Linked DNA regions of Homo sapiens: regions 2, 3, 4, 5 and 6 are each reported to be linked to region 1. The links are microRNA targets in miRTarBase. Many come from high-throughput screens and were not tested one by one. Region 1 holds a microRNA gene; each other region holds the end of a gene's coding sequence. Distances are between the middles of the regions.

Region 1 (5,076 bases):
GGGTGAAATGACTTCCTCAAGAATTTCAAACTATTAAATAGGAGAACTGGGATTTAAGTCCAAGCAGTGAGCATTGTGCACATACACTGATGGTGCCATGCTTCCTCATATGGATGTGATACAAGATTAGAAACACAGAGCACAGGAACAAATGGCTTTGGTCCAGAAGCAGACGGCAATGTAGCAAAAGTAGACACCGTAGCACATGCTCAAACATCCGTGGTGCATGAGCAGCCACCACAGGAGTCTGAGCATTTGACCACGATGCACACTCAGGTTCTGCAACAGAAGCTGACATCCAATATATAGGAGTAGATACTGAGGACGAAGAAGGAGGCAAACACACTGTATGACAAAAAATCATGGTGCACAAAATTATATTCATGGTACAGAAAATTCCATTTTTAGTACAATGTAGACAACGATGGTGCATTTTCACAAATCATGATGAATGAGCAGAAGACCATAGCTAAAGGGCATAAGCACATTCATACAACCATGGAAAATTAGCCAGGGCTCACTTAGAGCCAAGAGACATCTTATGAGAAAATAATCATAAGTGGAGACCTCATAGATGGATATAGTACAAGATCAAAACATCTCAATACATGAATGATTATTTCAAATGTAGGTGGCAAAGGTGCATAGAGGACCCACCGTGTAACATGTTCAGACAAAAGTTGATGAAAGCCATTAGTGATATTTGACTGTTTGATCTTGACTTACACAGGTACACAAAAGTAGTTTACACTATTACGTAGCATTTATGCCAAAGGAGCTAAGAGGCATAGATAGATACAGCACACAAACTTGTTTTCGGAGAATAAAACCATGCTGTGGTGCTTACTTAGACAGATATTGTGCCTTATACAAGAGCCACGGTACAGGGGTAAACAGCTTTGTCCATGAGTAGATGTCAGATATGTCAAAAGAGACCTGACACCATATACTCAGATGACCATTGCATGAACAGCCACCACTAGTATTTGGGCATTTGACTATGATGGCTACCTACACAATCCCACGACATAAAGTAAAAGAATGATACAGGAGCAGGTAGACATGAAACCATGATTACCAAAACGGATATGGTTGGTGATTAAAAATCATTATTTTCTTTAGTCTGGGAGAAGATGGCAATGATTAAACGGGTGAAGTTATGATATATGCTGAAACAGCCATGTTGCATGAACAGCCATCACATCATAGGCATTTAAGCATTTGACTGATGTACAATTAGAAAGCCCAGTGACATGAGATAACATCTGTCTTTTTGGAACAGATAAACAATGTGCAGAAAAAGGCAGAAGTGATCTAAGAGTAGAGAGTCATAGAATATGAGTAAATACTAAACTCATATACACGATGCATAAAACACTATTTCCCTGTAAAGCAGTAGACAATGAAGGTTCCTGCTCAGAAACCATGGGGTATGAGCAGACAAGCATGCTGCATGCTCAGACAACCATGGTGCATGAGCAAAAACCTACAATATAAAAGCAGGTGGGTGTGATACAAGAGTGAATAACACAATGAGGAATATGCCCAGATGGACAGGACATATGAATAAAGGAAACATAACACATGAATACAACTTATTTAGGCAAACAGCATATGACAATGATGCTGGAGGAGATATCATGGCACATACTCAGGCAATCATGGTGCATGAGCAACTAACACTAATATTTGACTGTTAAACCACGATGTACACCCAGATATCCCAACAAAAATAAGCTGATGACCATAATATAGGAGCAGATGAACAAGGATATTGAAGAAGATGCTGATAATAAAATAGCAGAAAACGATAGTGCAGTAGCTAATAGAATACTACAGATGGCAACGATTCAAATGACTGCCATGGCATATACTTATATAATGATGCTTTAAACACTATCACAAGTATCAGCATTTGACCATAATGCACACTTAGAGAACTCCAGAATTTGAGCTGACAATTATTATACACGATCAAGGGACACAGTATCATTATCATCATTGTCATGTCATCATCATCATCATCATTGTTATCATCATCATCACTACCTGCCAGGCAGTATTAAAAATATTTTATGTATAATAGCTTATACAATCCTCACAATAACCTTACTACTTTTTTTGTCATTTTGCAGGAAACTGAAGCATGAAGATACGAATTGATGTGTCCATTTCATGAACTGATGTGTCCAAGATCTCATAGCTAGTAAGTGGATAATCCAGGATTCAAATTCAGTCATTTTGGCTCCACTATCCATTATTGTAAATATGACAATAAATGACAATATGCTGTGATTCTTCTGACAGACATGATACCAGATTTTAAAACAGAGCAGAAAAATGAGTGGCTTTGTTCCAGAAGCAGATGGCAATGTTGCAAAAGTAGACACCATAGCACATGCTCAAACATCCGTGGTGCATAAGCAGCCACCACAGGAGTCTGAGCATTTGACCACGATGCACACACAGAAGATCTGCAACATGAGCTGATACCAGGTTATAGGGAGTAGACAGATGACAAAGGACAGAGAAAACTCATCACAATAGTGAAAGACATGGTGTAGAAATTAATATACATAGTACAAAATACTCATTCCCAGTACAAGTAGACAATGATTGTGTATTTTCACACAAGTGTGGTGTTTAAGTTTAAATACGTAGTACAACTTCAATCACAGTATATGAGCACAAATTCATTATGTATGTTTATATTATCATGGAGAATAGGTCAATTCATACATGAAAAAGGGGATAGATATGGTATCCCAGGAAAGAATCACAGAGTAAAAACTGCTCAGGTGATACAAAAAATACGGGTATGTATGGCATTTTGTCAAAAAGAAGATCAAAATAATACAGGATGTTCAGATGAATAAGATGCCAAAAAGCATGTTTTAATATGTGTTCATGAGGTCCAGTCAGACACCTACAGGACATAGGCTATCAATTATGACACAGGTGCAGATGGACATGATATGGAAATAAAACATGGTGTGATTCTTACTTGGGTAGATATGGTATGTAATCAAAAATAACCATGCAAGCAATTAATGACTTTGGCCCAAGAGAAGATGACAGTGGTACAAAAAAAAGACTCACATGGACATAATGACTCATAAAAAAAATAACCATGGTGATTGACTCTACACATTTGTGTTTGGGCATGATATAAATCCAAACGATCCCATTACACAAACTAACAGCTATGATACAGTTAGTAAGCATGATACAGGAACAGACAGCAAATATGGAGAAAATACCCATTCTGCAGGAGCCAGTGACCACAATTCAGGAACTAATATTCATGTTATTAAAGTTATCATTCTCCACACAGAAGGAGATTATGTTTATTTTTTACACATTAATGATGGGTGAGCAATATCTATGATGTATACACAGAGAATCAATTAGTATACACATAAAATACACAAGCAGTTGGCTATCCTTCAGGAGTGGTATCCATTCAGACGCATGTCCCTATCCGATATCCACAATACTGAATCAAGTTTTCAGTTAAGGATAAGATGACAGTGGTGCAAAATGACACCTCATGCCATATGCTCAGATGGCTCTTTTGTTTGAGCATCTGATCATGGTGCACAACTTAACAACCATAAAATGTGAGGTAATGAATGATAATAGAGAAGACTATATCCCAAGACTATATCGCTGTAAATACGCAAAATACAGGAACAGTTGGATATAGTACAAGAGCAAAAAGCAATGTTGAAGTAGGAGCCCGACATGACTGATATATGAGCTAGTAACATGCTGCACAGTGTGATAACCATGACATAGAAGTTGGTCAATCACAGATCAATCTCAAACATCAGTGATATATGAACAGAGAACTAAGCTGTAGTGCTTCCTCGGATGAACACATGCCTAATTTAAAAGCTATAACATAAAAGCAAATGTCTCCAAATGTAAATGCTATTATGGGTTGAATTGTGTTCTACAAAAGAGGGGCACTGAAGTTATAACTCCCAGTACCTGTGGATGTGACTTTATTTGGTAATAGGGTCTTTGTAGATGTAATCAAGTTAAGATGCCTTTATAATGGATTAGGGTCAGCCCTAAATCCAATCACTGGTGTCTTTATAAGAAGGGGGAAATTTAGATATAACAGACAACGAGAGAAAACCATATGACAATGAAGTTAGAGATTGGAGTGATGCTGCCACAAGCCAAGAAACACTTGGGATTACCAGAAGCTGAAAAATGCAAGGATGACTCCTTTGCTAGGCTCGAGAGAGAGCACGGCTTTACTGACACTTTGATTTAGAACTTTTAGCCTCCAGAACTGTGAGAAAAACATTTCTGTTGTTTTAAGCCACCTAGTTTAAAGCACTTTGTTGTGGCATCCTTGGGAAACAAATACAGATGACATTGTTACAAAAGGACTCTGAGACATGTTTAAATGACTGCATGGTGTATAAATATCTCCCCCTGTAGTTTTACCACCTGAACAAAAATCACACTCAGAAAACCCCTAAATATTATCAGGAAGTCATGATGTATGAACTGACAGCCATAGTACAGTGTGCTCACAATCATCTATTATTAGAAGTAGAGAGTAGTAGAATCATCCAAATACCTTGTGACTATAGTCAACATTGTACATGAGGATACTACATTGATATGTTAAACAATGCAACATGCCAAGAAAATAATTCATGAGTTGGAAATCACAACACAATAGCCTTAAGCTCCGGGACAGGTGTATACCATCATGGTAAATGTTCAGATAAACTTTAAACAAGGTAAATTGCACCTAACACAGAAGTCACTGGCTCTGGCTTGATACATGGGCAAATATAACTAACATGCTTGAAAATCATGACATATGACATCATAAACATGGTTCACGTTCATGTGCATAAACTCTTCTTATATAGGAGCAGATACTTATAATTCAGGATCAGAAGGCCATGGTGCTTGCTTGGATACCTAAGCATGCAGAATCATATTACAGTGACAAAGGGCAATACTTCAGGGAAAGATAACCATAGAATCACGCAACATATCATGTTAACACAGCATTGGTGTGTGAGCCAAAGGCCATGGTGCAAGAGT
Region 2 (5,076 bases), not on the chromosome of region 1:
AAGCTCTGTAAATGAAGAATCACTGACGCTAGGAAAAAAAAAAATCAAGGCTGAAAGCATCAGCCTTTAAGGATGGTGCACCTGGCTTCCGTGTCCTCTCCTGGTAGGGGTGAGGCCTGTGGGGGTGAACATGTGGGCATGAGATCGGGAGCCATTTTCTCCTGGGGAGCTGGTTAAACAGCACACTGACTCCCCAGCTGGAGGCACCACACCTCCTGTGAATGACCCACCAGAGAGCCCACGGAAGCCAAGCCACAAAGGCGCAGGAAGCAGCAGGCCTCAGGGAGGAGCTTGCCACCCCGCCTGATCATGGGACTGCCCAAAGAGGGATAATCTCCATACAGCTGAAGACAGAAAGGCTAAACAGCACATCGTGCTGATTTCATGTAGTTACAAAAATACACAGACACAAACCCAATCTAGTCTGTTGAGCCTTGGAAATTCTGATATATTCAGGTCTCATTAATCTTTTCTGACAGGTCTGGCCTCCATAGCAGAGCTGGTGGGGCCACGCAGAGCAGAGTTCACCACGTAGACACAACTACAAAGGCCTGTGACCTCTGTCACTGTCTAGTAGGACTGATGGGATGTGTGATTATCATCAGGATGTTTTCAAATGTCTCCATTTCCAGGAGAAGAAAAAGGTTGATCATGTAGGTTTGATTTAATTCTCCCCAAGAGAGTATTTCAGGGTAAAAAGGAAACAGATCTCTTCTTATTTCTGCAACTCCCAGCACAGCTGCAAAGAATACATCAGGTGGGATATGAAAGTTAGGAAATGCTCAATGGAGCAGCTGCTTTTTGCTTAAAATCTCCACCTCTGTGTTGCTTAGATTTGAACCCAAGCTATGGATTCCAGAAGTACTTGGAAGGCTTGATGCCTTCTAGCTGACACCATAACCAACCCACAGGGGGCACAGGGGAGCACAGAGAGGATAATTTTGCCTTCATTTATGAAATGGGGATGGTCACAAAGATCAAAAATCACAATGAAGAGATAGCAGAGGGTGGAGCTAGCCAGAAATCGCATCCACTTACCTGCTATAACTTGGTTCAGTCCTTCTACCATCCAACAGTAAAAAATGAAACTGACATCCATTTGTAGAAGTTATAATTCAGATTTTTTTTTTCTTTTTCTTTTGAGATGGAGTCTTACTCTTCCATGCAGGCTGGAGTGCAGTGGTGTAATCTCAGCTCACTGCAATCTCCGCCTCCTGGGTTCAAGTAATTCTCCTGCCTCAGCCCCTCGAGTAGCTGGGACTACAGGTGCGCACCATCATGCCTGATTACGTTTTGTGTTTTCAGTAGAGATGGGGTTTCACCATGTTGGCTAGGCTGGTCTCAAACTCCTGACATCAAGTGATCTGCCCACCTTGGCCTCCCAAAGTGCTGGGATTACAGGCATCAGCCACAGTGCCCAGCCATAATTCAGGTTTGAATCAAGGATTCAAAGCAACCTATGTCCTAAAACAAGGTTTATGACTTTGTTTGAAAAAAAGAAACCATTTTAGATTTATTAGCAGTTAGTTGAAACAACAGATTTTGTGATTTTTGTCAGGTCTTGCCAAATGCATGTCAAATGTACAAGACCCTCATGTTTATGCAGATATTTGTGAGAATGTCTTTAACTGAGATCCAATCCTGTGAATAAAACCAGTCATGAATATACATGGAAATTTGCAAAGTCAAGTGTACAGCCCTTTTCTATCTCTCCAACCCTAACACTCAGAATAATATAGATCATCCTTTCCTAACTCATACGTAATGTCAGGCTCATACTGGGTTTCAAAAAAAGCATAATGAAGTAAATTGTTTTTTTTTTCTTCTCTCTTTTTTACAAAGTGTTATTTTAAATTGGCAAGGGGTAAATATCTGTCTTCAGCTATAAATGTGAAACTAATATTTCTGCCAGTAATGATCTTCTAACTTTAAAAACAATGTCCTTAAATCATTTAATAATTACATTCCTAATAATTACATTTCTAATACAGTTCTCTAAGAACTACAGTTAAAACCAGAATAAAATATATTCTGTGGACCAAGTTGATGGTAATTTTAAAATCCCTAACATTTATGGGTATATAACTTTTAAGGATACTAATGCAGCATCAACCCAATTGTCCTTTATTTTGGCTCATCTAATTTACAGACATGATTTCTGAAGTTTAACAGTATTTGTAATGGCAATATCCAAAGTGATTTTGGCTGAGTAAACTGCTATTTGTTGAACAAAAATGTAGTTGTTTGTGCAAGTTTAAACATTTCACAAGGCCAGCTGAGTTCATTTCAACCCTACTTACAAAATAATTATTGGCAAATGAAATGGGCTGAGGGGGTAGAGACAAGATATTTTCAAGCTTCTGAGAGATTTACAAAGCCAAGTTCTTCAACTATTGAAAGTGAAATTGAAAGGTCACAGACAATTGAAAGGTACAGGTTTAAATCTCAGGATTAAAAAGAGTTCCAACAAGAGGAATATTTACAATGGAACAATGAGGAAAATGTTTTGTTACAGTCAGAAACATGGAAAATATGCTGTTCAAAATTGTTGGCTCAGGAATAAATAAAATCCAGACTTGGACTATTAAAAATATCAAAGTGATCCACTGTGTGCCAACTCCATTTTCCCCTGTTGTTTGTTATAAAGAAAATCCGTTATTGAATATAATGCAGTTCTGGTTAAATTATCAAAGACATTTTCCATATGCAAACTGTTGTTTACCATATGCTATATATTCTTCGATAACAATTTTAATACACCTCTATCACATGGTTCCATAGGTGCAGCGTTAGAAGGAAATTTTGAGTTATATTTTAATCTCTTACCCAAGGTACAAACCCCCTTTGTAACAGCCATTCAGCTCATTCTGTTGAGCACCTATTATAAACAAAATTAGAGATACAAAAATACCTTTAAGATGTTAATGGCCTGTTAGGTGGAAGAAAGCATCTTTGTCCAATGGTTGCCATTAAGCCTAGACTGAAACTCTTCTATCTTGTGACAGGGAGCTCACCACAATGCAAGGAAACCCATTCTTTCAGTGAGTAGCTCTATAATTGGGACCGTGTGTATTAAACTGGGGCTGACATCAGCTGACCCTGGTTTTGCCTTCCGGAATAGTATGAGCCAAATCTACTCCATTTTTTTCAGCTGAGCTCTTCAAAGATTTTTGAGAGCACTTTCCTGTGTCCTACCTAGTTTCTCCGCCCACCACCTTCATGCCATCTTATTTCCTCTTATTTTCACTACCACGAAATGCTTTCCTGCCCTTAGGGATTTAAAAAATTATTTCATATCGACGGATTGAGCCTAACAGCTAAATACTCAATATTGCACTTAAAATAAAACAGACTTTAAAAATTATGACATTAAGAAACCAAAAGTTACAGCAATTGGATACAGTCTGGGATTATCCCTTTGTAATTAGATGAGCATTGACTAACGAAAGATGTTTAGGGGAAAAAAAAATGGAACAGAACACCTAAGGCTTGCCAAAACTGTGTATATTTGAGAGGGGGGCATGATAAATCTATTATAATGAAATTCATGTGCTCTAAGACAATGACTGAACTTGGTATTTAAGACTATTTAAAAGTCACAAGATGAATTAGGTCATGTTTCAGAAATGACTCTACAATCTAAATTTCTCACAAGCAAGTCAGGTTAATGACACCAGACTCTGCTACTTTCAATGGATAAAACAAGGGATCGACTCATATGTTAAATTTTCTTCTAGTGGTTATACATTTGGTACTTTCATAAGCCATAAGTAAGAGACCCAGGATAATTTAAATCCAGGAGACTTTATTTAGCCTCCGGAATGGCCCCTCCAACCCCAAATCCATGCAAGAACACAAAGCCAAGGGGTAAACTAAAAAAAAGAAGAGATTGTTTTATTGTGACATTTATGACATTGACCCCTTGTTGACAGGAATGACCGAGGGTAATCTTGGCATATTGCACATGCTGTGATGAAGGATGCACTGGTGATCCTCTGGCCACTGAGGCTGTTTCCTGGTCCTCCCAGACCTCTATGCACGTGTGGGCCAGTCACCGAAATTTCATTACCACTTGGTGTATACATTTAACAAGTCTTTGGTCTTAATAAGCACCATTACAAACCCTCACATTAAGGGCATTATTATTCTAGTTTATAAATGTTTCAATGATAAAAAATAGCACGATTACAGTATACACACACTTAATTTACATGTAATGTATTATACTCATAACTGAGATAAGCTACTGAACTAACTTTGGTTGATTGAAATTAATGAAGTATTGGAACTGAATACTTGTAATTTGGTTTCTAAGTTGTGTACATATTACAGTGCATTTATAAATCTAGTTTGAAAATTTACTAGCACCAAATAGGTACCATAAATGGACAACCTAGTACTTGTATTTGGAGAAGCAAAGTTTACAAATTTGCAAAAAATAGAGTAGTCCATCAATTGAAAGCACATTCCCGTACGTTTGCTGGAAGGATGGCATGTCAGCATAAATGGCCAACCCCCAATGGAAATACACGTCCCAGTTTTCAAGAATCAACACATATGACAAGGTAGCTTAGCTACACACATGAGAAGCCTGAGAAAGTGGTTGTTTTGAACTAGGGTAGTCACCTGTACCTTGCTTTGGTAATACAAAGAATAGTGCTTATTTATACAAATTTACTTGGTGAAAGATTGTACCTATGATATGATGATTCTGATTGGGGGAAAATATAGTTCTACCTATCTATATTTGTTTTTCTTTTAATTATTTGGTCTCTGGATGGTGAATTAATGAAGCAAAACCTGGATTTTCATCTTCAGATTATCACCCAGTTCACCACTGAGGTAGTCTTTGTCATATTTGTCTTCTAGTTGGTTAAGTTCTTTCTTTTTATAAAGTGGAGTACTACTGATTTGTAATGAATAGGTTCCAGCCACTGGCTTCTTCTTTGTGAAGTGGAGGTAGCTGATCCCTTCCTTTTGGTTGATTTTAAAGAAGCCATCTTCATTTCCAGATTCGATCAAGTATCTGTTGTGATTCGTCAGAGTTGTAAGAGCTGGAAGGAGTTCTAGGATTCG
Region 3 (5,076 bases), not on the chromosome of region 1:
ACATCCTGCCCCACCTGGGAGCTGACCTCACTCTTCCTGTATGGGCTTGACTAGTTAATCCACAGAAACAGCCATGTTTCCCTAATGGTCAAGTTCTTGGGCAGCCTTCATAGACACTATCTATCTATCTATCTGTCTATTTATTTATTTATTTATTTTTTAAGACGGAGTCTTGCTCTGTCACCCAGGCTGGAGTGCAGTGGCACGATCTTGGCTCACTGCAAGCTCCGCCTCCCGGGTTCATGCCATTCTCCTGCCTCAGCCTCCTGAGTAGCTGGGACTACAGGCGCCCGCCACCACGCCCGGCTAATTTTTTTTATTTTTAGTAGAGATGGGATTTCACCTGCCTCGGTCCCCCAAAGTGCTGGGATTACAGGCGTGAGCCACCACGCCCGGCCTCATAGACACTATCAAGTATTACCAAAAGGGACACTCACTCAAACCATCATGAATGTATACCAGTGGCCAAAGAAAAGGTGTATGACTTAGAATCAATTCATATCAACCTCAACAGATATTTAAGGAATAGATTCCTCACATGAGTTTGTCATATTTCTTTTTCTTTAAAAACTCAAGGCAGACAACATTTTTGTTAATCAAGGCATTCAGTTAAGATGGCAAATTGAGTTTTGCAGATATGACTTTTTTTTTTAATTAAAAATTTTTTTTTGGCCGGGTGTGTTGGCTCACGCATATAATCCCAGTAGTTTGGGAGCCCAAGGTGGGCGGATCACCTGAGGTCAGGAGTTTGAGACCAGCCTGGCCAATATGGTGAAATCCTGTCTCTACTAAAAACACAAAAATTAGCCGAGTGTGGTGGTGGGTACCTGTAATCCCAGCTACTAGGGAGGCTGAGGCAGGAGAATCACTTGAGTCCAGGAGGTGGAGGTTGCAGTGAGCCAAGATTGTGCCACTGCATTCCAGCCTGGGCAGCAAGAATGAAACTGTCTCAAAAAAAAAAAAAAAAAAAGAAGAAAAGAAAGAAAAAAGAAAATTTTTTTTTTTTGTAGAGAGGAGGTCTCAATATGTTGCCCAGACTGGTCTTGAACTCCTGAGCTCAACCACTCCTCCTACCTCGGCCTCCCAAAGTGCTGGGATTACAGGCGTGAGCCACCATGCCCAGCCAGCAAACATGACTTCTAGAAGTACAGACTCTGACAAAATTCTGCATTGTTTCTCTAGCTCACTATCTATACCTTTGCCTCTTGGGTTTTTATCTAATTACATTTAAATGCTCTGCTCTTATTTTCTGCTTGTGTTTAGCTCCTTCCAACTGTGTTTTCCTCAGTCTCGATGTATTTTCATCCTTTGCGCCTGTTTTTATGACTCTATGATGGAGACTTCTCACAATCCCTCTCATTTTTTTTTCACACCTGTATTTTTCCTCCTCTTTTCATTTCTGGGTTCCTGCCTCTTCTTTGTTCTTTGGATATTCAATTTTTTTTTTTGAGACGGAGTCTCACTCTGTCACCCCTGCTGGACTGCAGTGGCACTATCTCGGCTCATTATAACAACCTCGGCCTCCCAGGTTCAAACGATTCTCCTGCCTCAGCCTCCTCAGTAGCCGGGATTACGGGCGCCTGCCACCACGCCCGGCCAATTTTTTGTATTTTTAGTAGAGATGGTGTTTCACCATGTTAGCCAGGATGGTCATCTCCTGACCTCGTGATCCGCCTGCCTCGGCCTCCCAAAATGCTGGGATTACAGGCGTGACCCACCATGCCCAGCCTGGATATTTAAATTGTTCTGTGCTCTCCTCCTTTTTTTTCTCTCTGTGATTCTCTTTGTCAGCTCCTTTGCCTATATTTGCATCTCAGTTGACACCCCTGATTCTGACTTGTCCTTATCTTCCTACCAGTCTCTGCCGACCGGTTACTGTCAGCCTGTCTTTAGGGTTTGCGCTGCAGCTGTTTGTCCTTTGTCTTTCTGCCTGCCTCCAAGTCCCCATATCTCCTGGTCTCTTCTGTCAGTGAATCTTCCCACTGACTGCCTCCTCCGCCTTCTGCTTCTCAGCTCCCCGGACTCGTCCCCGCTCTTCTCTGTTCCCACCTCTCCTCTTGCTCTTCTGATCTCTCTATCTGCCAGTATTTCCTCCATCACTCCTGAGCCTGGGTGTTTCTCCTTGTCACTCACTCTATTTCACTGTCTAGACTCTCTGTGCCTTTCAGCCTTGGGGTCTCTTCTTGTCGGCCTTCATTTCTATTTTTCTGGTCCTTTTTGTTTATAACCCTTTTATCAGTTCTGTGACTTTGGTGTCTCTCAGGATCTATGACAGCCTTTCTCCATATTTCTGCTAGGGCCTGTCTCTTTTGCCCTCCATCCTTCTTTGCCTCTGTCACCTCTATGTGAATAATCCTTCTCTCTTTCTATCTATCACTCAATCTATGTATGTCTGTCTCTGTCATTCTTCGTATCTTTCTGTACCTCCGCTTCTTAGCAAGGTTTTTGTTTTGTTTTGTTTTTTTTTGAAGACAATCTTCCTGTCTCTTGCTTTTGCTCATGTAGCTTTTCTGTGGATGGCTAAGGGTTGCCTCTCTCAGTCCATTGTTTAGTGGAACAGCAGACTTAATCTGCTGGGCACTTCCCGTCACCTCGATGTTCTGGGAAGGAAGGGGTCTTGTTCAACAGAAAAAAACGCAGCAGAAGCAGCAGGGAGGAAGAAGACTTTATGAATGTATCTCAGAAAAGTCCCAGCTCTTCCTTTTTTTTTTTTCTTTAGAGACAAGAGTCTCACTCTGTTTGCCCAGGCTGGAGTGCAGTGGCACGACCTCGGCTCACTGCAACCTCTGCCTCCTGGGTTCAAGCGATTCTCCTGCCTCAGCCTCCTGAGTAGCTGGGATTACAGGCATGCACCACCATGCCCGGCTAATTTTGTATTTTTAGTAGAGACAGGGTTTCACCATGTTGACCAGGCTGGTCTTGAACTCCTGACCTCAGGTGATCCTCCCGCCTCGGCCTCCCAAAGTGCTGGGATTACAGGCGTGAGCTGCTGCGCCCAGCCAGAGGGCCAGCTATTCCTTTATCCTCCTGCAGCCTTCTCTCACACAGTCTACCTCTGCCCTTGTTCTTCCATGAAAGCCTGGGCCTGGGAAAACTCTGTACTGGGCACCTTTCCTTCTGTAATTCTAGACTTCAGTGCCGTCCTAAGAAGACAAACCAGCCCTGTGTTCATTCCTCTAAGAATCCGAATTGTCTTTGAAAAGTCAAAAGGGGTCGGGTACGGTGGCTCACGTCTGTAATCCCAGCACTTTGGGAGGCTGAGGTGGGTGGATCACTTGAGTGCAAAAGTTTGAGACCAGCCTGGGCAACATGGCAAAACCTGGTCTCTACAAAAAAATACAAAAATTAGCCTGGTGCAGTGGCGTGCACCTGTAGTCCCAGCTACTTGGGAGGCTGAGGTGGGAGGCAGGAGAATTGCTTGAGCCTGGGAGGCAGAGATTGCAGTGAGCCAAGATCAAGCCACTGCACTCCATCCTGGGCAACAGAGCAAGAACTTGTCTCAAAAAAAAAAAAAAAAAAAGAAAAGAAAAAAGAAAAGTCAAAAGATACTAAAAATAAAAATAAAAATAAAAGGCTAGACACAGCAGGACCAGGGTTAAGGAGAAAAACAGGAGTGTGCGCCTGTTCTCACGTCTGTAATCCCAGCACTCTGGGAGGCCGAGGCAGGTGGATTACTTGAGGTCAGGAGTTCGAGACCAGCCTGGGCAACATGGTGAAACCTCCTCTCCACCAAAAAATACAAAAATTAGCTGGGCTTGGTGGTGCATGCCTGAAGTCACAGCTACTCGGGAGGCTAAGGCAGGACAATCACTTGAACCCAGGAGGCTGAGGTTGCAGTGAGCCGAAATCGTGCCACTACACTCCAGCCTGGGTGACAGAGTAAGATTCCGTCTCATAAAAAAAAAGAAAAAGAAAAAGAAAAACAGGAGTGTGGCTTTGAGAACCAGAAACATCAGCAGCAATTGCTGTGGCCCAGGTTCTGTCTCTTGGCAACTATCACGTCCATCTCTGCTGCTACAGATAGCACCTCCTCTACCTTCCTCCCACTGCCAGAATTTGGTTATAGGTGAGATCTCTTTTCTCTCTGTCCCCACCCGCCCCATACCAGATCTCTCTGATCCTAGTGGGACTTCACCTTCCCCCATCTGTCCCTGGGTTAAAGCAAAGAGCTTCTGTCTCCACTGGCAGTTTCTTCCAGCTGCATGCCTCCTGCCACCCTTTACTGATAGCTCTAGCTGTACCTCTTGAGTTTATTTGCTGGAAAGGATGCTCATCTGATGACGGATTTCAGTGAACAGAAACCCAGGTTCCCACCCATCCAACATCAGCATTTCTTCTTAGATCCGAGGAAGGGGAAGGGATGTGAGTTAGCTGGAAGAGAAACTGAGATTCTGATGAGCAAGTCTGGCCCTCACCCTGATGGGGGACTGTGCATGGAAGACCCTCATCTCCTTGTCCTGGCCCCACCTCCCCCAGCGAGGGGCCCATGGCTTCTCTCTAGTCTTTCAGGCTGAGAGTCGAACTGTTGCTGGTGACAGGTCCATTGTCACGACGTGTCCTGGTCCCCCTGGTTTTCTCATGGCCAGGGCTGGGTGGATGGGGTCGAGACTGTAGGACATCATTGACCAGAATACGGATCCCCAATATGATGCTCATGATGCCCACAGTGACCAGCCCAATTCCACCCAGGGTGACCAGAGCAAGAGGAACCTGGTGGTGCTGCCGGAACAGCCACAGACTCATCCACCCCAGCGGGACCAGGCGGAAGAGGGCCAAGGTGGCCAAGGAGGCCCAGCTGGTCACGCTGAAGGCCAGGGATGGGGCCTGGCGAGAAAGCAACAGCAGCTTCCGCAGGTGCAAGCAGGCAGAGTTCAGTTCCAGGAGCAGAGACACCATGGAGAAGCCCACGTAGTGGCCAGACAGAACAGCGGTGCTGAGGCAGCTCACCACCTGGGAGCCAGGGTCACAGGTCAGAGGAACCCCATGACCTGCCAGCCATCATGTCCCAATAACCCAGGCCTGAAGAAAGAGGCTTCCACGCAGTCTGTGGGGCTCCCCAAACACCTGACCTTTATG
Region 4 (5,076 bases), not on the chromosome of region 1:
CCAGCCTGGGCAACAAAGCAAGACCCCCATCTCTACAAAGAAAATTTAAAACACATGACTGTAGTCCTAGCTAATCAGGAGGCTGAAGTGGGAGGATCACTTGAGAGCAGGAGCTTGAGGCTGCAGTGAACTATGAATGTGCCACTGTACTCCAGCTCAGGCAACAGAGTGAGACCCTGTCTCTTAAAATAAGTAAAAATAAAAAAAGATGCCCTGATATCTATATATTTCTCTTCCTAGCTGAAAGAGAAGATAGTGCTAACGCACAATCGCTTAAAATCACTAATGAAGATTCTGAGTGAAGTGACTCCTGACCAGTCCAAGCCAGAAAACTGATCCTGTACCAAAGCTTGAGTGTCAGGTTCAGGCTTTATTGCTGTCTTCAACAACAGGTGCTGCTTAGTCATTTCTTGAAAAAGATTGGCTTCAAGAATGGAGGGGAAATGCAGTTTCTATTTACCTTTAGGCTGATTTTCCAAATTATTTGTGAAGCTGTTTTTAGAAGATGAGAGACTAAGGATTCTTCTCTTTTATAGCTATTTGCCTTAAGAACTTACTTTAGATTCTTATTGAATTCATAATACTTATCTCTGAAAATGTCTTTGACTGTAAATTTAGGAATTAAGATGCAGAGTCCCATGTGTCCTCTGATCTAAAGTTGCATGGTTGGTCTGAAAATAGAGTTGGGCTTAATGTTGACTTCTATTACTCCTGCATGGAGCAGTTGTTATGAATACTAATACATCACTTTTTAACTTCTGTAAAATACAGATCATAATATTCTATAGGTAATGTTTAATAAATTGCCTGAATAATATACAATTTGTCTTTTTCAGTTGTAAACTGAGGTTAACAGAGAAATAATGAAAGCAATGATAAAACGAAACAGTTACCAAAGTACTATTTTCTATAATTTTGTTTTATGTAGCACTTTGAGTAACTTATCAAAATATTAATTTAATATATATTTGTAAAGTGTTAGACTAGGTGCTGGGGATAAAAGGTAAGCAAAAATAGACACACTATCCTTAGAATTTATAATCTAGTCAGAGAGGGACATTCAAATAATCACATAAAGATACATAAAATTACAGGCCTGGCGCAGTGGCTCACATCTATAATTCCAGATTTTCGGAGGCCGAGGCAGTGGATCACTTGAGGTCAGGAGTTCAAGACCAGCCTCGCCAACGTGGTGAAACCTCGTCTCTACTAAAAATACAAAAATTAGCCAGGCATGGTGGTGCGCACCTGTAATCCCAGCTACTCAGGAACCTGAGGCAGAAGAATTGCTTGAACCCAGCAGGTAGAGGCTGCAGTCAGCCGAGATCGTGCCACTGCACTCCAGCCTGGGCGACAGAGTGAAACTCCATCTAAAAAAAAAAAAAGATATGTAAAATTATGACGCTAGTAAGGGTTTTGAAGTAAAGGAACATAGGGATACACGCACATAAAGCAGGTAACTGACCTGGTCTGGGTTTCTGGGAAAGAAAGCCTCTGTGTAGAAGTGAAGTTTCAGCGGTGGTCTGAAAGACGAATAGGAATTAATAAGGTGATGGAGGGATGACCTTTATGAGGTCCTTAAAAGAAGGCCTGCCTAATCAAATTTACTTTTTCAGAATGTCACTGTGGTTGTCCTGTGGAAAACAGGTGGGAAGGACAGCAAGCAGACCACTAAGGAGAGCCTTTGGCACTAGCACAATCAAGAAATTACATATCCAAGTGGTGGAGGATAGAAAAGCTAACTTGGCTGGGATGTAGCTAGCAGAATATATATATATAAATTTTTTTTTTTTCTTCCCGAGATGGAGTCTTGCTCTGTCGCCCAGGCTGGCGTGCAGTGGCCTGATCTCTGCAACTGCCATCTCCCGAGTGTTGAAGCGATTCTCCTGTCTCAGCCTCCTGAGTAGCTGGGATTACAGGTGCATGCCGCCACGCCCGGCTAATTTTTTGTATTTTAGTAGAGACGGGGTTTCACCGTGTTGCCCAGGGTGGTCTCGAACTCCTGAGCTCAGGCAAATCCACCCACCTTGGCCTCCCAAACTGCTAGGATAACAGGCGTGAGCCACTGCGACTGGCCTGCTTATGCTTTTTTTGAGGGGAGGGTGGTGAGACAGGGTCTCACTCTGTCACCCAGGCCTGAGTGCAGAGGTGTGAACATGGCCCACTGCAGCCTTGACTTCCTGGTCTCAAGTGATCCTCCCAACTGTATCCTGAATAGCTGGCACCACAGGTTTGTGTCACCACGCCTGGCTAATTAAAAAAAAAAAAAAAATTGTAGAGACAAGGCCTCACTGTGGGCTCAAACTGGGCTCAAGGGATCCTCACTTCAGCCTTCTGAAGTGTTGGAATTACAGCGGTGAGCCATTGTGCCAGGTCTGATTATGCGTAGAGTTGCAAAAATTTGGTCCTATAAGCAAGGTTGATGCTTTCTGGCAAAAACCAGCCCAATAAAAGCTTTTACTTTTTAAAGAATAAGACCTAATATAGGCCAGGTGCAGTGGCTCACGCCTGTAATCCCAGCACTTTGGGAGGCCAAGGCGGTCAGATCACGAGGTCAGGAGTTCCAGACCAGCCTGCCCAACATAGTGAAACCCTGTCTCTACTAAAAATACAAAAATTAGCTGAGCATGTGGCGTGTGTCTGTAGTCCCACTACTCGGGAGGCTGAGGCAGGAGAATCGCTTGAACCTGGGAGGCAGAGGTTGTGGGGAGCCAAGATCATGCCACTGCATGCCAGCCTGGGTGACAGAGTGAGACGCCGTCTCAAAAAAAAAAAAAAAAGACCTAATAAGTACCACATTGAGTCACCCCTGGTTGCTCTGGGCGACAGAGCAAGACTCCGTCTCTAAATAAATAAATAAATAAAATTAAATGCTTGACCTTTACGTCAAATTAAACTGGCTAGCTTTAAATAGATTTTTTTCAGATTACATGCTCACTCTAGAAAAAAGAGATGTGTGACAAAATACAGAGTGAAAGTATACTTCTTCCCTTTCTATTTTTTGAGAAGCACAATATAGCATCCTGGTAAGTGAGCAGGCTCTGGAACCAAACTGGATTGAAACTGTGGCTTGGGTACTTACTAGCCATGAACTGGAACAATTTATCTGTTTTAATTTCCTTCTATGTAAAATAGGGATAAAAACTATAGTAATTAGAGCTGTAGTGAGCATTAAATGAGTTAATTAATGCATCTAATGTAATTAGAGCAGTGCTTATCACATAGTTGGTGCTCAATGAATACTATTATTAAACTCCATGTATGTGGATACACAGAGACACAAAATAAAGGCAATTACAAATATGTTAGAAAAAGTATTCCAAAACTCCTTATGGCTGTAAAAGCAGCATTACATATTGAGGTTTGAATGGCTGCCTGTTCCATTGTACAACACACTGGAAACTGCTACAGCTAGGTCTCAAGTAACCTGGTCCTTTGTTCTTTAACATCTGAAGAGTACTTTGGCACAGGTCTTTGGAAAGGCTCCTTCTCCCATCATCAGTATGTACTGCATTATTTAAAATTACCCATTTCAAGTAACGACACACAATGAGATTTCAGTGCATTCTCAGCCCATGCTGCTTTATTGCTAAAATATATATATACACAGGTGCAGAGCTTCCAACTTTTTTAACAGTTCCTTTTTACATCAAAGAATTAAATTTCTTCAAAAACCCCAAAGATGCATAGATTAAGAAGCAAGCTGCCTTTTGTAATACTTAAAATAATATTCAATGAAACTCTTAACGTTATACACCAATGGTGCAATGGAGAATATGGAGGACAGCAAGTAAACACAGTGAGCAACTCTTATTCTTACAAGGCAGTAGGTAAAGTATAATGTGAAGGACAGTCTAAGATAATCTTTCTGGTTATAAGAAATGGGTCGGTTTTGTGATAAGTGCCAAGACTGTTACTGTTTAAGGATTGATGATAATGTATTACCAGAATACCTTTCTTATCCCTGGGAGAAAATATTTTTTCACTGATGGAATGACATATCACCAAGGGAGAAAAAAACCTGAATACTGTCAGTAACTAAGATACCTATTCTGACTTTAAAGAAGATTTAGGACTTCATGGAGAAATCTGTGATGTCTGGTTTCCCAAAATTAAGTATTTTAATGTGCCTTAGTGGAATAATCGGAGGAATTTAGAGAAACTCTGTTCTTAATCTTTACTGGCTGACAGACATGCTATCAAGTAATTGGGGAAGACAAACTATATTCAGGATATGACATCTCACTTCATATATTTCAATGGAAACCAAACATCACAGTCACAAGAAGTCTAATTCAATTCTGAACCACTGGAAAGTTACCATTCCACTTTATTCATTCCCAAAGTTATTTGTAGCAAAATCCTACAGGAAAGAATGAAATAAAAAGTTTTCAAAAAATTTTTTTCAATCATAGAATGTAAAACCTTGAATGTGCTTTGTGAAAATCATTTAGTCTAATCTTGAATTCTATTTAGGCTTGTTTCAGACATCATGAATGCCATTTTTACGTCATTTGTCACAATCACTTGTACTTATATAAGGGTTATTTTTAAAGTCAGGAATTTTCTCAAGGAAAATTTTAAGCTACTACAGGCCAGGTGCAGTGGCTCACACCTGTAATCCCAGCACTTTGGAAGGCTAAGGGGGGGCGGATCACGTAAGGCCAGGAGTTAAAGACCAGCCTGGCCAACATGGCGAAACCCCGTCTCTACTAAAAATACAAAAATTAGCTGAGGGTGGTGGTGCATGTCTGTAATCCCAGCTACTCGGGAGGTGGAGGTTGCAGTGAGCTGAGATCACATTGCTTCACTCCAGCCTGGGCGACAGAGTGAGACTGTTTAAAAAAAAAATTTTTTTAAGCTACTGCAATAAATTTGTTTATTCATCAAATAAAATAAATAGCAAGGATTTTCTTCTATTGGAAAAAATAGATAGCAAGGATTTTCTTCTAGTGGAAAAAGTTTCTCCTGTTTAACCTGGCATTAAAAGCTTTAGTCAAGAAATTGCAGTCTGGCCAAACCCATCAAGGATAAAACTTTGGCTATAAAATTTGTTTAAACTGTTTTTTATGCAAT
Region 5 (5,076 bases), not on the chromosome of region 1:
TTCTGGTAAATGGATTTCACCCCTCAGTGCCCTGTGGCCACATCTGAGTCTCTTCCCTGCACATGTGAAAGGTGCCCAAGCAGCACTGACCTCCCCTGAAAACCCAGCAGCTCCCCAATCCCGTCCCCAGCGCCTCTGACCTTCCACCCAACTCCATCTTCAAAGCGCAAGACTTGCAAGAGCCCAAGATGAGGCCTGGGAGAGTGGCAGGCTCTGGGCGTGCCCGTTTCTACCCCTGCCTTGCTGGACACCCTGAAGCACATCTCTCACCTCTCTGGGCTCCCATCTCCTCCAAATCTGCAACAAAGGACAGGAGGTGAATGAGAAAGGGGGCAATTGACAGGCATTGGGGCTCACAGGCTGGTGCCCAGTGGGTCAAGTTTGGCCCATGGACATTTTTCTTTAGGCCGACAGAAAATTTTACAAGTTTTCATACTTGAATGCCACTCAGGGGGGCAGGCACACTTCTGGGCATCTCGGGCACTGCTGCACCGTACTGTCTGGTGCGCTGCCCGAGTGGCAAGGCTACACCACCCCGTTCACCCAGGAAGCAGTTCATTCAGGGGACTTGAGATTGTGATCTGTGTTTCCAGGGGCTGTGGACACCCTGGTGGCCCTGGCTTGGGCACTCCTGCATACTGTCACAGCCAGGCCTGGAGCCTGTTCCAAAGTGCGAAGGCAAAGAAAGGGAAGTGGGGGACAGCACATGACCTTGGCACCTGGACCCCTGGAGTCAGGGCTGGACCCATGTCCAGGCCTGGTCAGGGATTATGGCATGGCCTTGAATTGACTCTGATACCCTCTGAACCTCAGGGACAGCTGGGAAAGAGTCTGGATGAAACCTCAGAAGCACTGTTGTGGATTTGGTCAAAGACTCCGCAGGTTTCAATGTTCTTAGGAAACAAAGCCGCCAACCTGCAGGCCCCTAGGTCAGGCCAGCCTCTGGGTCCCTGTTCTTTCTTGCCTGATTGTGGGTCTGGGGGATTTCTAGGGAATGGGGGTGGGGGAGTGTCTTTAAGCCATACACTCCCATGACAGGAGCACAACTCGGTGGAGAGAGAATGGGGCCTGGAGATCTGAGAATTCACTTCGCCTCTATGTTGCCGTGAGAGCCCCAAATGTCAATTTCCCCGTCTATAAAGTAGGCATCATGCTCTTTGCTCCACAGAGTGGTTGAGGATTGCAAAGCACCGTACAATGTCAGTTATGGAAGGGCTAGCCTTAACTAAGGTGCCTTGGGAAAGGGATGTTGGGTTTGATATATCATCCAATTTTTCTAGGTTGGAGCTAGACTGATGGTATGAGAAATTTTCATAAAATCCACAATGTCCTTTTCCAAAAGTCAGAGCTCGAACACAGGGAAGAAGGCCCATGGAGAAATGCCCCAGGCCTTCTGCCACGATGCTGGTGAGGCCCCGGACTTGTGTTTTCCATTCAGAATTCTCTGGCATCTACTCAACGGCTTGTGTCCTTTGGAGCCATCCTCACCAAGCTCCCAGGCAGCTCCGCTGGACCACGAGGTGCTGTGAATTGGTGAGAGCGGGCGTGTGTGTGTGAGAACATCCGTGTGCATCCATGTGCGCTTGTGCTTCCGCCTGGCAGCCCAGGAGTCAAGTGGTTGTCTCACAAATACAAAACCAATCTGAGGACCAGCAAAGCCTCAGGTGAGGGAGGAAAGGTATGGGGGGAGCTCATTACAGGGCAAGAAGAGGAACAGGATGGGGAGAGGGGGCCGCTGTGAGCCAGGTGGGCTTTGCCGAGGAAGGATGCTGCATGCCTCAGGCAGCTGGTTCAGGGGAGGCTGACCTCCTCCCAACAGCCTGGAACCACAAGGAGGGCAGGATCCAAAGATGTGGGTACACATCATTCCAAAAGAAGGGTGACAGGGGGCAGAGGCTCAAGAAGTCTGTGCTGAAGACCCCTGACCCCACCACTTCCTGCTAAATGGAGGGAGGCAGGGAGAGAGATGCCAGGTAACATACCTTCTCCTACCTTACCTGACAGGTGGAAGCTGCAGCCAGCTCACCCTGGCTCCTGGAGGTGGACTCTGGCCCCAACTACCTCCCTTCTTTGCCCCGCAGGTTCTGGGTGGGGGCGGGGGTGCATGTGCCTGCTGTGAGCTCGCTGGGCTCCATCCCTGGCCTGGGTGACCAGGCTTCCTTGGCAGTTCTTACAGACTGATTGTCTAGGGCATGGGGCCCAGAACCATCTCTCACTGCTCTTACTGTCAACTCTCCTCAGGAATAGGAGATGTGGATAGACCAGGGTGACAGGGAACACCATGGGTTGGGGGTCAGGAGCCCGAGTCCCAGCCCCACCCCCACCAGTCACTGCTTGAGGACTCCACCTTGCTGAGCCTTAGTTTTCTCTTCTGTTCCACCACCCTGTGGGGGACTTAGGGAACAAAATACTTAGCGGTGGCCAGAGGAAGTCTGCTTTTTCTCCCTGCATGGTCCTGGCCTTCCCCAAGCTGGGCCTCAGTTTCCCACAAGGGAAGTTGGGCTAGGTCTTTTTCCAGGCTCTTCTGATTCCCGCCCCTCCGAGTGTTCTTGTTTCCCACTTGGTCCAAATATTATTGGGCCTCAGGTGCCCACCCCCATCTGCTTGCTTGGAAGTGGAGGGCCTGCCCCAGATGATCCTCTCACAGCCCCGGCTCCCTGGAGAGAGGAGGGGAAGGAAAGAGCTGTGGGGTGGCCCTACAGATGACCCTGCTGCACCAAGGCAGCCAAGGCTCAAAGAGGTGCAGGGTTTTGTCTGAGGTCCCACAGCAAAGACATGTGGCCAGGACCAGGACAAGACCTGCCTGGCCTGCTGATCCCAAGTCCAGTCTCTCTCTGCCCTGGCTCTCTGCCATCCTGGTGACATACAGATATGGGGGACATTGTCACCTAAGAAGGCCAAGCCCCCTCTCATCACTGTCATTCAGCCCAGGTTTGGACAAGGGCTCTACCTGGCTGTTCTGACTTGACAAGAGAGACTATGCAAGGAATTAAGGCCCCAGGTAAAGAGATGATGGCACCTGGCACCCCCATGTCAAAATCACTCCCAGGTCACACAGCAGCTCCTCACTGCTCTCCTGCCCCTCCCTCAGGAGGCCTTCCTCTGTCCCCCAGATCTTCCCTGCTGGCTTCCTCTGACCACCCTAGCCCACAGTGAGTTCTCCAAGCTCCCTCTCCAAGTTCCCGTGGCCCTTGGCCGTGGCCCTGACCATCGCGGCCCCTTAGATCAACAGGTGGGCATGCATTGTGCGAAATTAGGCATCTGCCCCAGCCCCAGCACCTCCATGCCCAGCTGCCTGCTAAGCTCCACGAGGACGGGGAGGGTCTGCCCCGAGAGGATGCTCAGAAGTTCTGGCTGTAGGCTGTTTGTGATCTGGGTGTGGGGGAAAGTCCTCTGTGTTAATTATTGTCTACATCACCGGAACAGGCTTGCCCAGAATCCACTTGCTGGGGTCCTGGAGGGTGGGTGAAGTGTCCATGGCAGGTGTCCGAAGTGACCTGAACCTGGGCATGCCTCAGAAAACACCGTTCCAGGGGCTGAGGGAGTAGGGAGAGCCTCAGGCCCCTCCTTGGCTGGGATCAGATGATCTCCTGCGTCCCATCCAGCCCTCACATTCAAAGTCCACAATGTAATCAATACCTCGGATGACATTCTGCTTCGGAAAAGTAGCTGAGGAATCTCCCAGACAGTTTTCTTTGAGTTCTTTGATCTGGAAAAGAGCTGCTGATACTGCATCGGTCCCAGAGAAATGGAGGCAGGAAACCAGGACATCTCCCCAAAGTGTGCTCCTCTTGGAGAGGGGCCTCAGGGGGAGCCTGCAGCACAACCAGCCCAGTGAGACTCCTCGTAAAGATACTAAAGAAGGAGGGATGAGCAGGAGGCTGGGGCCCAAGGGCAGCATCCTCCATCTTGAGGACAGCTCTGAGCGCACCTGCCAGGGTCACCCAGGGCAGAGAGGATGCTCTGCCATAGGTCTAAGATGTCCGGTGATGCACCAAGAGTGCGAGATGCATCATGGGTGGAGCAGTCTTCTCAGTCGGACCTTCAGGCCCACAGAAAAGCAAGAAGGTATTTACATGGGTGCTGCTGAAGCAACAAAAGCAAGCTCTCCTTCCCAGGCTGGGGTGGTTATGATGGATGGATAGTCAGACAGCTGGAGGACAGGCAGGCTGGGCTGGGGCTGCGGTTATTTGCAGGACAGTCTATTGGTTTGCAGAGACCCAGTGGCCATCGGGAGAAGCTCATAGATTGGCTTTTAGAAATAGACAAGCATCCAGAAGTCCAACGGCCCCACCAAAGGGCCCCAGAGTCCCTGGAGGAAGAGAGGAAGAGGGGAGCTTCAGGCAAGTGGGGGATGCTGGGGGACGGTCTCATGGGCTCTCTGGCTATCTTCAGGAGGGCTGGGTGGCTGTCACCCTCAATAGGTGCCATCAGTGTTTGGTGCCCGCCTGGCTCCAAGGGTCAGTGACGGTCATAGGCAGTGGCGGCTGCAGGTGGGGCGGCTCCTCGGGCGGCAGCGCTATAATAGTAGGGGGAGCCTGGAAGAGACGGGAGAGAGCACCGAGGTCAGATCCGGGGTCCCCTTTCCACCAGTCTCCTCCACTTCTGTCCTTTCCTCCCCTCACTCAGTCCGGGCCACCATCCTCTCTCACCAAGATCTCTGTCCCAGTCTGTTCCCCAGATGGCAAGTCCCATCAGGGCCACAACCTGCTCATAAGATTTCGAGGCTCTTCGCCATCTAGAGCTGGGGTCCGGAGCCTGGGGCCCTTGGGTCCAATCCTCCCAGCTGCCCGTTTTAGTGAATAACATTTTACTGGAACACAGTCTTGCCTATGAATGCAGGCATTGCCCATTACTGCTTTACTGCTATTACGACAGAGTTGGATAGTTGCAACAGAGACACTGTGGCCTGCAAAGCCTAAAATATTTACTCTCTGGCTCTTTATAGAAATCATTTGCCAACCCCTGACCTAGAAGATAAAAACATGAAAAGCATTCCCTTTGTTTGGCCTGCAGGTGCTCTGTGAGCTATCCCCAGCCAGCATCTCTGAATTCATTTCCCTCAGGGAAGGCCCC
Region 6 (5,076 bases), 78 Mb from region 1:
TGAAGTATGCTGTCAATTTACATTTTTCATGTTTTTTCAAAAGCACACAATTTACTAGTTAACTCAATGAATTACAATACTGTTATTGAATATAAACATACTGAAGAATTAAAGGGAAAAAAACACACCTGACACTTTAACATGTGCCTTAACAATCTTGCATACTAAGGTACAGAATACTTCAGAAAGTAACAATTAGCATAGTCTTATAAGACTAGGAGAATAAAAGTGCCCTGCAAACATGGCTTCTATGTACTTAATATGGTAAAACATGTGACAGGGAAGCCTGTAAGGTAAAACTTAAAAAAAAAATCAAATAAGGCAGATTATAATTTTTTTTGTTCGCAAAAGAACAAAGGAGAAAAGGGGAAGAATAAAAACATTCTCCATCTTTAAAAGAAAAAATATTAACAACCATAAGGTGCCACTGTATTTTAGCAAGCTGTAAAAATGGCCTTTTAAGAGGAATTTTGCAATCTTTACCTCCCTATCATTTGGGTATTTTGGGAACTGACCGAAAGTCATGGCTGATGCTTCACCCATTTCATGTCATGGACGCCTGGGAAGCAGGTAGTTAAATACAAAGCATATTATGTGATAACCCTTCATAAATATAATTTGAGACACTGACACTAGGAGAGGATACTTGGCACAGAAAAGACATGTTATGGGGCGGGGGACACATTACTTGAGGCAACACTTACAGCCAATCAGTTTCCTAATCTTAAGGTTTGGATGAATTCCAATCGTTTTTAAAAACTGTGTGTGTACACACACATATTTTATTTCCTGGTGCTAAAGGTCTTATAAACTGTACAATTACCTACATTCCAACACTAATGTGAACACTTTTCTCAATCCCCACCTCCATTAACACCATTAAGGTGTAACTAACATGTTCTTTTCAGAGCAAATATTCCAAATTAACAAGGTGGCTCATCTTCTATAGTGTTGATACAAAGTCAGCAAACTTTTAACTTAACTTGCTCAATTTTGTTTCTAATAGTACTAATAAACCTCAACTTTGGCTGGACATGGTGGCTCACGCCTGTAATCCCAGCATTTTCGGAGGCCGAGGCAGGCACATCACTTGAGGTCAGGAGTTCAAGACCAGCCTGGCCAACACGGTGAAGTCCCCATCTCTACTAAAAATATAAAAACTAGCCAGGTGTGGTGGCATGCGCCTGTAATCCCAGCTACTCGAGAGGCTGAGACAGGAGAATTGCTTGAACCCAGGAGGCAGAGGTTGCAGTGAGCCGAGATCGCTCCATTGCACTTCATCCTGGGCAACCAAGTAAGACTCTGTCTCAAAAAAACAAAACAAAACAAAACAAAACAAAAAAACCTCAACTTTGTCAGCTGCTCAGAGTTAAAACAATTCAAATGTTTCAGACTAGAAGTGAGTTTTTAAAAACATCTGAAATATTCAAGAAAATTTGGGTTTTGGTACTTTTCCTTATGCTCTGAACAATGTGAACTCCCAACATTGTTTATCCTTGTTCCTCTTACTGCATGAAGTTCAAACTAGGTCTTAAAGACAACTTTTCTGTACTTAAGAAAAAGTGCAAAGATAGAAAATGAAATGTAAGGTGTTTTGCAAGAAATGCTCCCTCGAGAATGGTGTTTGGATGTGGGTGGGGGGAAAACGATTTTTGTTCTCCATTGTAATCTGACACCTACGAATGACCTTGTCTTCAATGTCCACAACACTAGTAAGCATGTAATAATCACGGACATCGCAAGATTAAAAATTAAGTAGCAAATTCCACTAAAACACTTGTATTCATTCTATACAATCGAATGGAAATCCGTGAGTGCTACTGAAAAAGGTGTTCACATGCACATGTCCAATATGTGCATTCCACTGAAGGCTAAAAGCTTAAAATTCTATTTCCAGTGTTTATGAATAGCTTCAATATCTACATTCATAGCCAGCATTCTGCTTGAGTTACCTCTTACTTTAATACTTCACAAATGAGTAAGTACGTCTTGGGAGATTAGGAAGGTACCTGTTGTCAATAACTTTCTCTTATGCTTAGAATGTGCTGCAATTGTTTTTAAACTATTTAAAATGAACACCCCTATAATAATGAAACACTTTATGCCAAGAAGAAAATTGATTTGTTTTTAGCCAATCAAGACTACCCTGCAGATCTGAAAACTGTAGATTACATCCTTAGGAAAGGAGAAAAGGAGGCTCACAAATATAAAGGAATCCTGACTTTTACACGGACAAATTTTTAAAAAGATAAAATGTATTACATAAGCGCCATAAACAGTGAAATCTGCTTATATTAAAAAAAATAAGTGAAGCTTTGTTTGGACATTATTTCCTTGCAAGAGCAGTACATATCCTTAGTAAACAACTACCATATTTACAAGTTAATTTCCTTGATACTTAGATAGGATTGAAAGCCAGAAGAAATCATGGAAGAGTGAGCTTTGAAATAATCTTTACAGCTAAGTTGGTAACAGTGAAGGTACCCAGACAATTCCTAAAGCAGACTTGTTTATTTTGTAGAGTATTTGACTACGTCTGGGTAGCTAGCTTGCTTTGATAAAGGCCAAGGACAAGTTCAATCCCTATTTTGGCCTGTTAAAGCTTTTCCCAGAAGAACAAATATCTGCTCCATAGTCATTCTAATCCTAACCCCAGCTAGTCTCAAAAAAGAAATTAGGCAAGAAGACTGGGGTTATCATGAAGTTACTCTTACTACTAAGAAACCAACATAAAGTGCATGTCCATAGATAGCGAGTCAGCAGTCTCATTTTCATATATGGGCAGCACAATTAAAATTTGAATTTCAAATAACCCAACATGACTTTCAACAAAGGATAAAAATCCCTTAATCTTCAACTGGTCTTTAAATTTGAGATGTTAGGACTGTGTTAGAGATAGTAATGAAATATGATCAAGTGTGCACTGGTACCTTAAATGACAAATCTCAAAAACAACACAAATTCGAGACTTTCCTATTAACACACACATGTGTACCAACTGCAATTCATATGCTAAAAGTGGTTTTATAGTCTCTTTCCTCCATTTTTTCATTTTTGAGGAGCAGACTTGTAAATTTAACTTGTGCTAGGTAGTAGTGGTTTGTTTTTCTTAAACCAAAACTCTGCCAAACTTGCTGATCTTCTGCTTCATCTACTCAGGTAGAATACCAGGTCAAGCTGCTGCTGTGGCTGCTCTCACCATATGAAACCAGTTTGTGTCTGCATTATTACTGTCTTCAGGAAAACTTTAAATTCTTCAGTTTTCTTTACTCCTCCCATATTTCACTTCCTGCCTAAATCCAAGTTAAATTATACAATTTCCACTGGTCTTCAACACGGTTTAATTCTGCACTGTCCTTTCCTTTGCATGTCACAGTAGCTGTTCACACATTAAATATTATAGATATGTTCTGCTCTTGACATCTACACACTTACAAAAGCAGCTTTGTACTTTGTTTGGTGTGTTTGTTACTATGTTGGCTCACAAAAAGCAGTTTTCTCAGTTCTAAGCATGGTACTTTACAATTTTTAATGCATTCATACAACAGTGCATTGGAAAAGTACTGAGCCTCTACAAAATAGCTTTACATTTTTAAACAAATGAATGTGATTTTTTTTCACTTACACAAGCATAGGCTTTTTAATATTTCCACAAGATAAATATCTCAATTAAACTATAAGCTCACTCTACAGTGTGCCACAGTGATGGGCTTAGGAGACAGTTATACACTTAGAAGATCCTAACCTTAGTGTTATTTACACTGACATGTCCAGTATCACCAAGTCTGAAAGGTGAACAAACAATACTCAGAATGTGGCTGAATTTGTGTTAACTAATAACTGGGAATGATATAGCTTTAATCACTTATGAAACACATACTGTAACTTAGTCTAAACTGGTAATTTCCTTTGCTCCTCTCTTATGGTGTGGGAAAATTTAAAGATCAACATGAAAAAGGAGCCATTGCTAAGGCAGATCTTTTAAGATAACAAAGGAAAAATTGACAAGTGTATATGATAAATTATCAGTAACAGTGATGCTACCAATTTAACTGGTACGGAAATCAGATTTTTAGGTCCTATAACGTGGCTTTTAAAATATTTCCTTTTATTCTGGAACAAAAACTGGAGAAAGGACAATGATTCCTTCAGAAAGCAATGACTCAATTCAGGTTGTTACTTTACATTTAAGTACCACTCAAAAAGTGGACATAAAAGCAAGTGATTCCTGTTTGCCCATCACTATATCAGCTACATAGCTGAGAGTTCAGATCTTAATTACACAACACTTTCTCTGTTACCAGAAGCTAAGACTGCTCTGCGACAAATAGGACAGGTAGAATTCTCAGATAACCAGCGATCGATGCAGTGGACATGGTACTCATGGGAACAAGGTAGTTTACGAAGTTTGTTGCCTTCTGTATATTCTGTAATGCAAACACTACAGGTTTTTAATGCATCATTTTCACCAAAACTTCTCATTGCCAAGTTGTCAATCTGTTCTTTGGTGAGTCCTCTAGGTTGGTCATCATCATCCTCATTTAAGAGGAAAAACTGAGCCAGGCTAAGGAAGGGCAAAGAGCCACTTTCATCAAATGTGACTGGGGCCCTATGTCGACCCTCTCGCCTGGCACCTGATGAGCCTGATGATGAGCTTCCTTCATTACTGCCTTCAAATAAATCTGAGCTAGTTTCTGAACTTTCACCACCGGAACTGGAACTAGGACTGGAACTGGAACTTGAACTGGAACTGGAACTCGAACTGGAACTGGAACTCGAACTGGAACCAGAACTACTACCACCACCAGAACCTCCTCTTCCACTCCGTGACTCTGCCCTTTCCATATTTCGATTTGAGACTGAGCCAGTAGGCTCTGAGTCGCTATCACTGTACATAAAATAGCTTAACTCACCAAAACCTGTCATTATCTGCCTTAACATGGTCTGAATTGCAACAGATGTAGTCTCACTTAAACCAGTATTTAAGATTCTACGAATGGGAATTCTGATGGTACTGACATAGGTTCTCACACCTGCCCGCTCAGAACGTGAAAATGTACGCCTAAAACCTCCTCG

The links. The annotated mature microRNA hsa-miR-767-5p reads UGCACCAUGGUUGUCUGAGCAUG and lies in region 1 at 1,453-1,475, opposite strand. An mRNA with a match to its seed (bases 2 to 7 or 8) in the 3' UTR can be bound and repressed. Matches are read on the target gene's strand: a 7mer-m8 pairs with bases 2 to 8, a 7mer-A1 pairs with bases 2 to 7 and ends in A, and an 8mer does both.
Region 2: miRTarBase lists FBN1 as a target of hsa-miR-767-5p. Seed matches in the 3' UTR shown: 7mer-m8 at 4,110-4,116.
Region 3: miRTarBase lists TLCD2 as a target of hsa-miR-767-5p. Seed matches in the 3' UTR shown: 7mer-A1 at 2,849-2,855.
Region 4: the mRNA of OIP5 is a reported target of hsa-miR-767-5p. The part of its 3' UTR that is shown has no 7-base or 8-base seed match.
Region 5: the mRNA of PAX5 is a reported target of hsa-miR-767-5p. Seed matches in the 3' UTR shown: 7mer-A1 at 3,991-3,997 and 7mer-A1 at 2,713-2,719.
Region 6: miRTarBase lists RLIM as a target of hsa-miR-767-5p. The part of its 3' UTR that is shown has no 7-base or 8-base seed match.

What each region holds. Positions count from the first base shown.
Region 1 is chrX:152,392,029-152,397,104 of GRCh38, forward strand. MIR767 (microRNA 767) reads right to left here and starts at 1,501; the gene lies at 1,393-1,501. The region is part of intron 1 of GABRA3 (gamma-aminobutyric acid type A receptor subunit alpha3); the gene reads right to left. It overlaps MIR105-1 (microRNA 105-1), which reads right to left and starts at 271; the gene lies at 191-271. It overlaps MIR105-2 (microRNA 105-2), which reads right to left and starts at 2,464; the gene lies at 2,384-2,464.
Region 2 is chr15:48,406,205-48,411,280 of GRCh38, forward strand. It overlaps FBN1 (fibrillin 1), which reads right to left. Exons shown (of 66, transcript NM_000138.5): 66 at 2,109-5,076. The coding sequence ends at 4,786. Among named protein-coding and RNA genes, the nearest start is that of DUT-AS1, 77 kb to the left of the region's middle.
Region 3 is chr17:1,703,273-1,708,348 of GRCh38, forward strand. It overlaps TLCD2 (TLC domain containing 2), which reads right to left. Exons shown (of 4, transcript NM_001164407.2): 4 at 1-4,950. The coding sequence ends at 4,498. Among named protein-coding and RNA genes, the nearest start is that of TLCD2, 4.6 kb to the right of the region's middle.
Region 4 is chr15:41,305,014-41,310,089 of GRCh38, reverse strand. It overlaps OIP5 (Opa interacting protein 5), which reads left to right. Exons shown (of 5, transcript NM_007280.2): 5 at 241-817. The coding sequence ends at 336. OIP5-AS1 (OIP5 antisense RNA 1) reads right to left here. Exons shown (of 5, transcript NR_152821.1): 3 at 1,466-1,523; 4 at 1,249-1,370. Among named protein-coding and RNA genes, the nearest start is that of OIP5-AS1, 25 kb to the right of the region's middle.
Region 5 is chr9:36,836,099-36,841,174 of GRCh38, forward strand. It overlaps PAX5 (paired box 5), which reads right to left. Exons shown (of 10, transcript NM_016734.3): 10 at 1-4,538. The coding sequence ends at 4,462. Among named protein-coding and RNA genes, the nearest start is that of MIR4475, 15 kb to the left of the region's middle.
Region 6 is chrX:74,587,162-74,592,237 of GRCh38, forward strand. RLIM (ring finger protein, LIM domain interacting) reads right to left here. Exons shown (of 4, transcript NM_016120.4): 4 at 1-5,076. The coding sequence ends at 4,279. Among named protein-coding and RNA genes, the nearest start is that of RLIM, 25 kb to the right of the region's middle.